Homo sapiens: one gene and its partner. The protein of the gene in region 1 interacts with the protein of each later gene in a pairwise test. Each region holds a gene or a part of one and is shown on either strand. Other genes may lie near its edges.

Region 1 (4,588 bases):
CTTCTTGGAGCCCTTTCCACCGGACAGGCACTAACCGCTATCCTACTTCAACTCGGAAAGTTCTTCTTTCCAAGTGACTAGGAAGAGGTTTGTCCTGGTACTTCGCTCAGCGTTACTTTCAAGAAAGCCGGGGTCTCGGGCAAGTCTCGCCGGCGCGAGCCTGGTCCACCGTTACCCTGACACCCGCGCACGCCCGTGGCGTTTCTTTTTTCACTGTCGACACTTGGATCTTTCAGGCCCTGGGTCTAGGTTTCCCCCAGAAAAATGAGGGGCCCATGTGACGGAAACCACCAGACACACTGTGTGGAGACACATGCCAATGATTCACCTCGTTCCCGAACTAAAACTTCTGCGCTTTAGGAAAAAAGCAAGCGTTCCAATCTGCGAGGCCCTCCCCCACCCCGTCCCTTCCCAGGAGAAGAAAGAAAGGGCTTTGTGTGTGCGGTGAGGGCTCCGTTCATCGAGTTCAAAAATGCACAGCGGCCGGGGGCCGGGAGGCGTGGGGCGCCGGGCCCTGCCCACCCCTTTTCCCCGGGCCGGCGGCGAGTCGGGAAGCTGGTGCGGGAACCGGGGCCACGGGGCGCCGCGGCCCGGCAGCCAGGAGGAAGAGGATGCTGCGCCGCCGGGGACCAGAGGGCGGGGCCGGGCCGCGCGGACCTCGGCGGGACCCAGCGGGCCCGGGCGGGCGCACCAGCCGCCCTTTGTCCTCCGCCTCCGGGTCGCGGGGGCCGCGGCCGCCTCCAGCGCTGGCCCCCTGGCCCTCGCCCCGGTTCCCCGTCCTGCCCGCGCGCCCCTCCTCCGGCCCTCGCGCTCCGCCGCCCGCCCTCCCCGCTCTCCGCCTCGGAGCGCCGGACCTCGCGGCTCCCCTCGGCCGCCCGCCCCCGATTTCCTCGGAAGGAGGCTCGCGAAGGTGGAGGAGGCGGCCGAGGAGGAGGAGGAGGCCGCCACGTGACTCTCCTCGCCACATTCCAACACAGCCATCAGATCGATAACTTCAGGGACCCCCGCCCCCGCCGCAGCCAGCTAGTGCGCCCCCAAAATCCCGCACGCACGCCCCGCAACTTCCCTCTCCAACAGGGACGACGGAGAGCTGGACCCCACCGCGAAACGCAAAGGACTCCAGGGGCGGCGGGGAGAAGTAGGGGCGAGGGGCGGTCAACTTCTGGGAATGGCCAAGAGGGGTGCTCTGAGGCCCGAGCCGGGGTCCGGTGCCCGCGGCCGGCGGCCGGGGTCTGTTTACTCCGGCGACGTGCGGAGAGGACCCAAGCAGGACGCGGGCGGGCGGGAGGCGGCGGCCGGGACCCCGGGCCACGTTTGTCACGAGCGGGGGCTGCTCCCCACCTCCGAGATGACTTTTTTCTTCTTCCAAAGAAAAGGAAAAAAGAAGCACCGCACGGTTTTGCATATTTATTCTTTGCGAAAACACACAACAGAAACTTTTTCCTCCAGCCCAGATGTAGATCTCAGACGGGATATTTTTTTTTCCTCCCTCTCCGGATAATTTCGTTTCTTTCTCTCTCTCTCTCTTTTTTTTTTTCGGTTGTTGTTGTCTTTTCTCGCCCACTTTCTACCGCCGCCCCATTCGGGGATCCTCCTCCCGTCTTCGTCTCCCCCCACCCCGACACCTCACCCTCACTCCACCTAGGGGCTCAGCGGGGAGGGGAGCGCGCGCGCCCCCGCACTCACACTCACACTCACGCGCGCACACGCCTCGCAGCCACGCAGCCCTCGCTCCGCTACCCACAGTGACACTCGCGGATGGGGGAAAGCGGGGAGCAGGGGGTTCCTCCTTACCTTTGAGGGATCTCGGTTTCGCTTGCTTGCGGCGAGACATCCTAAAAGCAAACAGCTGAAGTTGTTTCAATTCAGCCCTGAAAGAAACTATACTTCCTCGTGGCCGCGCGCCCCTCGGGCCGCGGCGCCTCGCGCCCTCCGCTCGGCCTCCCTCGCGCCCTCGCTCCGCGCTCCGCTCCTCGCTCCGGCTCCGGCTCGCGCTCGCGCGCGGGGCTCGCGGCTGCCCGAGCTCCGCGCTCTGCACGACGGCGGCGGCGGCGGCGGCGGCTGCTGCACCAAACTTTCCCAGCCTTCGACCCCCACCCCCAATCTCCAAGAAAAAAAAAAAAAAAGGAAAAAGAAAAAAGGAAAGGAGGGAAAAAAAGCTAAAAAAAAAACCCCAAAGACAATGTTTGAAGAGCCGTCAGCTACACTAAAAAGAGAAAATCCGTTACTATTTCCACCTCAATCAAAATTCACATAGTTCATGCGAATAGAAAAAAACTAATAAAAAGAAAAGCGTCTGGGTGATTTTTTTTTTCTTTACCGCTTTTCCTTTTCAACAAATCCGCCCCCCCCCCCACCGGAAAAAAACAAATAACACTGATTTGTTTACAAAGCGAGTCGTGCTCTTTTGTAGTTGGGGGGACGAGGGGGGGAAATCGACCCTGCAAGGCGATGAAAAGGTCTTGGAAAGAAAAATCTCCCACCATCCGAGGCAGATGCGAACGGGCCACGAAAATAAGCAAAGGGAAAAAAATACTTTTTTTCTCCCTTCCCCCCACCCTTTTTTTCTTAACCCACACTAAAGTAATTTCTTTCAAAAAGAAAAAGCCAAAGCACCCGAGCCGACGGCCCCCAGGTGGTGTGCGGGGCTGCTTGTGTGCAGGGGGTGTGCGGGGCCCGGGCTCGGGGCGCCCCTCTCTGGGCGGGGGCGCGGCGCCGGCGGCTGGCGCTGGACCGGGGCTCTAAAGTCTACGGCTGCCTCGGCAGCGGCGGCGGCAGCAGCGGCGGCAGCGGCGGCGGCAGCGGCGGCGAGAGCAGGAGGAGGAGGAGGAGGAGAGCCGGGAGCAGGAGGAGGAGAAGGAGTGTGCTGTGTGCTCCCTCCTCATCACAAACCTGCAAGGTCTTGGACTGCGCTGTCGCTCCGGTAGTCCACATAATAATGGAAAATGGAAGCAAGGCCCCCAAAGCCATCAGGATGGCTCCAGAGGGGGCCCCTAACCCGCAGGGACTCGCTCTGTACGTAATCACTGAGGAAATCATTGTCAGCCTGCCTGCACTCACACACAGACAGAGGGGCATGATTAAAAGGCGAGAGCGCGGGGAGCGGGAGGGAGGAGGGGGCCCGCCAAGACCCGGACTGGAGGCGCCGGCCGCGGCGCGCGGATCCGGAGCCAGGCGGCGGCCGAGCGCCCCGAGCCCCGCCCGCCGCCGCCGCCGCCGCCGCCGCCTCCCACGCGCCGCGCGCCCCGCCCGCTCCTGCGCCGCCGCCCCTCGCGCCGCCCGCCCGGCCGCTCGCACACCCCGCGCCGCCGCCGTCGCCGCCGCCGCAGCTGCGTTATTAGAGCTCCACGGCGGATCTCGGGGCTCTTCTGCTCGCTTTTTTTCCTCTTCAGAAATTAAAGCAGAGGAGCATCTGAAAGTGGAAAGGTCCCCCTTCTGGTAGGATGGATGTAAAAGGAGGCAACAATTTGTTCTTGAGGGGGCAAAAAAAAAAAAAAAAAAAAAGAAAAAGAAAAAGAAAAAGAAAGGAGGGGGGAAATTCATTGCTTGGCTTTTGCATTGTCGGACTTTAAAAAAGTGTGTCTGCTGTTGTTGCCCGGACTCGGGAAATCTTTTTTATGGCAACCGCAGACCTGCCAAGTCTCTCTTACTTGGAATCTTTATAAAGGCAAGTTATTTGGACTTTTTTTTTATTTTCTCGTTTAGAGAAAGTCATTGATGCTGACGAATGTCATAATGTGATTCAAAAGAGACAGCTTTGAGTTCACTTTTTTAACATTCTCAAATTGACATAGATCTTTGTCCAGAAAATAAAGCTTTCTGTTGATTTTTTCTTTAAGCAAGAGGTAAGGAAATATGCACTTAAGAATATGTGTACAAGAAAATAGTTTCTAAAATAAATTGAAATGTCTGCAGGTCGGTGGGAATTTTTGTTTCTTTTCGCAGTTTTGTTTTCTAACTTTTCACCTGCTCCCATCGCAAAACAAGAAACCATCACCTGTTTCCTTCTTTTACCTTATCTTAAGGGAAAGGATGTTTTAGTATTATTATTGTTGTTGCTATTTATTGATTGGACACGCTTGTCAAGTTATAAATGCCTGAGAGGGCTACCAAGTAGAGCTTAGATTCACAAGTCTTGGTGGAAATTAAGAGATTCAGAATACGGTTAATTACACAAAACAGGCAGAATTTTGTACAAATACTATTGTTCTTAATCAGATTTTAAAAATTCTCCGTTCTGTAAAATTAAGGTACAGCTATCTATTAAGCCACCATGCAAAGACATCAAAGCTTTAAGGAAGTTGTATTTTTTCCAGTCTAACCTGTAAACTGCCTGGACCCTCATGTGGATAGCTGCAAATACAGTATGTTTTTTTTCAATATCTTCATTATAATTAAATGAGTTTTCAATCCATCTGCAGTAATTCCTAAAGTGAAATCATAGTTGTAGTCAAATTTAACTTTGCATGACTGTGAAATAAAGCAACTTTTGTTGCAGAATCTGTGTTGGTACATTAAGGATTCTAGATTTTATACATAACCTTATACATTCATTTTCACAGAAATCATTCAGAAAGGGAAAAATGTG
Region 2 (3,648 bases), on another chromosome or scaffold:
GAGAGCAGAGCAAATTGTGGATTAAGGTGTTCTTAGAGTGACAATCCTGAAGTTACAACAAATGTTTTACGATTGCCTTTGCCGGCTACTAAAGATAAACAGGTCCCCCATGTCTGATCACCCGAAGTGAAGCATCAAGGGAAGCCTTGGTCTTGAGCAGCCCTGAGCCCTGGACTCTCACTGTGTGGAGACCAGAGGCTGCACGATACCATCTCTGTCTTGACCATTCCCAAGGCAGACACTGCAGGCAGGTCCAGTGGGAAAGGGAGGATGCTCAGAGCCACGGACTCTGGATCTACATAAGGTGGAGGGCCCCATTTCCCCAAAATCACAGCCTAGTGACGTAGGAGCACCCACAAAACCAAGGCGGCCCCTCAGGTTACAGCGCTACACGATGTCCTTCAAAGGTCTCGAACCTTTCCTCCTCCCCCTCCTGTACACAGCATCAGCAGTTTGAAAAAGCCTGAAATCAGTGACGGGCGAAATTTTACATTTCAAGGAACATATCTGTTTACTTGCAGCCCTATTTTTACGCTTGAAATTAACATAGTATATTTCCTCTCCCCCACATATTAAAACAAACTCTAGATATTGGTACTCAATCCATATTTTCTTCCAGTTTTTGTTGGTGTGCAGGAAGAGGATATTTTTAGTTTAAACCCGAGCCAATAAGATTAAAATATTTGTACCAGTAGTTTAAATCTTTCGGATTCACTGTACATTTTTATCAGTTTGAAGGGAAATAACAAAAACTACTGACACATTAAAGCAAAAAGTACTTACTTGCTGAATCTTGGCGATAATTTTGGTTTTTTCATTCTTCCCCACGTAGTCTGAAAGCTTCTTCGTTCTTCTCAGCTCCTTGGCTGCCCACCACAGCTGCGCCTCTGCCTCTTTAATGACGTTGAGCCCTGCCTGGGGCCAGTCGTAAGAATGGCTTGACTGTGTGTTCCCACCCAGGGGGCAGAGCCCAGCTGAGCCCCTCCCAGCAGGGGGCAGGGGACAGATTTCTCCCCGTGCTCACCATGGGAGGCCTGACTCCCGCACCTCACTCTAAGTCCTTGCTGACTTTAGTACCTTCCCTGTTAAGTTTCCACTCATGCCCTGACTCAGTTAACTTCCTCCTCTGGACAACAGGGAGATCCTATCTCATTTGCACCTTGATCCATATAGTTCGTCTTAGACAGATCTGTAGGCCACTGCCAGGGAAGGGCACTGGCATCGTGCTGGGTGTTTAAATCGAGGTATAAAGGGGCTGCCTGTTTACTTCTGCATATTTCATTTATTTAACATGGCTTAGACAAAGAATATTGTCCAATAGGATAAGAAGTGAGAAAACCCAAGGAAAATGGAACATGAGGGTCAGAAAATAACATGAAGCAACAGGTAAGACTAGAAACACAAATTTCCATGCAAAGGGACTGACGCATTTGGGTAGAAATAGGAAGAAATTAGGTAGCTGGCTTCCTAGCAGCCAAAGACAGTGGAAATGTTTGCAGTCACTCCTGATGAGCGGCCTCACAAACTGCGTCCACTGCCTCCTGTGTGTGGGGCCAAACCCCTCACTCATGAGTACCCACTCTCAGGGGCTGCTCCTGAATTCAGAACTCTGCTCTGAAGCAGGGCATAGCAAACCTGAAAGCTGTGTAGGGAGCAAAACACTACATCCAGAAGAGGGGCATCAAATCTTAAGGGCTTTGGGGGCCAGGAACTCAACCTCCAGAGTACCCACTCACAAACTACGTACCTGTGTTCCCGACAAGTCTTCCTTATTTTCAAACTCCATGCGGATGGGATCATACGGTGGCAACCCCATGGGGTAAACAATCATCACCGCGCCTCGAAGCTGGTCCAAGGCATCTTTCACCATCTCCATGGTAACACAGACACCGGCTTCCACTTGTTTCTGCAAGCAGAAAGCCATCGTTATCTACAGTGTGGCTAATCACTTCCATAAATTCGATCAAGATCTTGTACAAGACCCTTGCCAGATACTGCCAGAGCAACAAAAAGAAATCAAACAGTTCTTGCTCCCAGAGTGACTACCATCTATTTCAGGGGCTGAGCGAAGCACACCGTGGCCTGTATTATAAAGCAGACGGTGAGCAGCACTGAGCATGGAGTACAATGAAGTGCAAAGAATTCTCAAAGGAGAAAGAGCCCAATGCTGGCAGCACAGATGGCAGTGAGGATCGGGAGATACGGCAGGGGGAGCAGGCACCGCAGGTGGGCCTCGAAATGCAGATGGGCTGAAAAGGTACAGATGGCAGCAGGTGCTTCAGGACAAGCTGAAACAAAGAAAAGCAGGCGCCAGCCCCCTCAGCATGGGGCAGGAAGGAGAGAAGATGAGGCCAGCTCTAGCTGGATCAGCTGAAGTTTGTTTTTGAATGGCCACAAAAGCCAGGCTGAAGAGTTCACCTTTCCTCTGTTAGGCCACGGGAAGCGACTGCCTTTTCTGGGAAGGAGTGGTAATGTTGAGAGATTTATCTTGTAGCTGATATAGAACAGACCTAGTTGGCCAGATGTGGTGGCTCACACCTTATGTAATCCCAGCACTTTGGGAGGCCGAGGTGGGCAAATCACCTGAGGTCAGCAGTTCGAGACCAGCCTGGCCAACATGGCAAAGCCCTGTCTCTACTAAAAATACAAAAATTAGCTGGGCGTGGTGGCAGGTGCCTGTAGTCCCAGCTACTCAGCAGGCTGAGGCAGGACAATTGCTTGAGCCTGGGAGGCAGAGGTTGGAGTAAGCCAAAATCGTGCCACTGCACTCCAGCTTGGGCAACAGAATAAGACTCTGCCTCAAAAAAAAGAACAGACCTAGTTGGAGGGAGACCAGGTAGCAGGCTCTGAAGAGTACAGAGGAAGGTGTGATGAAATAACAAATATATCTGGTCTTTGCTACTCAGTTCCAGGCACAGAGCTCCAAAACTCTTGGAATTTCCTGAGTGACAGGAGTGTCTTGTTATTTATAACGAGCCCCTTCTCACCATACCTGAGCTTGTGCTAATACAGTAACCTGTAGTCCGCGCTGGGTTTCAAGGAAGGGGCTGGCCGTGCCTGGGAGACCAAGCACATAATTAGAGGGTTGGAGCTTTCGGCCTCACTCCCTTCCTCCACCTCCAGGCGCTAGAGGTTGGGATCAAACACGTGGCCAGTGGTTTAAGCCATCATGCCTACTGAACAAAAACGCTATAAAAATCCCAGACATCATGGCTCAGTGAAGCTTCCTGATTGGTGAAGACGTTGATGTGCCGGGTGACACACATCAGTGGGGGCGTTGTGGGAAGCTCCAAATTTGTAGTCAAGCTGGACACAAGTATGGGTGGCCTGGGGACCTCACGTGCAGCTGGTGTCTGAAATAAGAGGAGTCTTGTTGGTGATCTCACCCTTTAACTTTTAGGTCTGATGCTAACTCCAGGCAGTTAGTGTCAGAATTGAAGGATCTGCCCTTGACCTGTGGGGTCTGTGCTGTCTCTGAGTAGTTAGTGTCAGAACGGAATTGAATTGACTGGCAGGACCCCCAGTGGGCATCAGAATGCAAAAGGCTACAGGAGAGCCTTAAAGAAAGCCACAGCTGTGGAAGTGAAAGGAAGAGGTGGACTTAAGAGGCATCATGGGAGCAGACGGTACAGAACCCCACTTCAAACC

The links.
Region 2: the proteins of ZNF521 (region 1) and CFAP298 interact in a two-hybrid assay, tested with the Homo sapiens proteins (one large-scale study listed by BioGRID and IntAct).

Annotation. Positions count from the first base shown.
Region 1 is NC_000018.10:25,349,113-25,353,700, forward strand, and holds the start of ZNF521 (zinc finger protein 521), read right to left. Parts: upstream 3,055-4,588; 5' UTR 2,893-3,054; intron 1,836-2,892; 5' UTR 1,835-1,835; coding exon 1,795-1,834; intron 1-1,794. UniProt on the Homo sapiens protein: Transcription factor that can both act as an activator or a repressor depending on the context. Involved in BMP signaling and in the regulation of the immature compartment of the hematopoietic system.
Region 2 is NC_000021.9:32,602,378-32,606,025, forward strand, and holds part of CFAP298 (cilia- and flagella-associated protein 298), read right to left. Parts: intron 1,907-3,648; coding exon 1,748-1,906; intron 916-1,747; coding exon 784-915; coding exon of another isoform or gene 712-783; exon of another isoform or gene 1-711. Other genes in the region: CFAP298-TCP10L (uncharacterized protein LOC110091775), read right to left, coding at 784-915, 1,748-1,906. UniProt on the Homo sapiens protein: Plays a role in motile cilium function, possibly by acting on outer dynein arm assembly. Seems to be important for initiation rather than maintenance of cilium motility.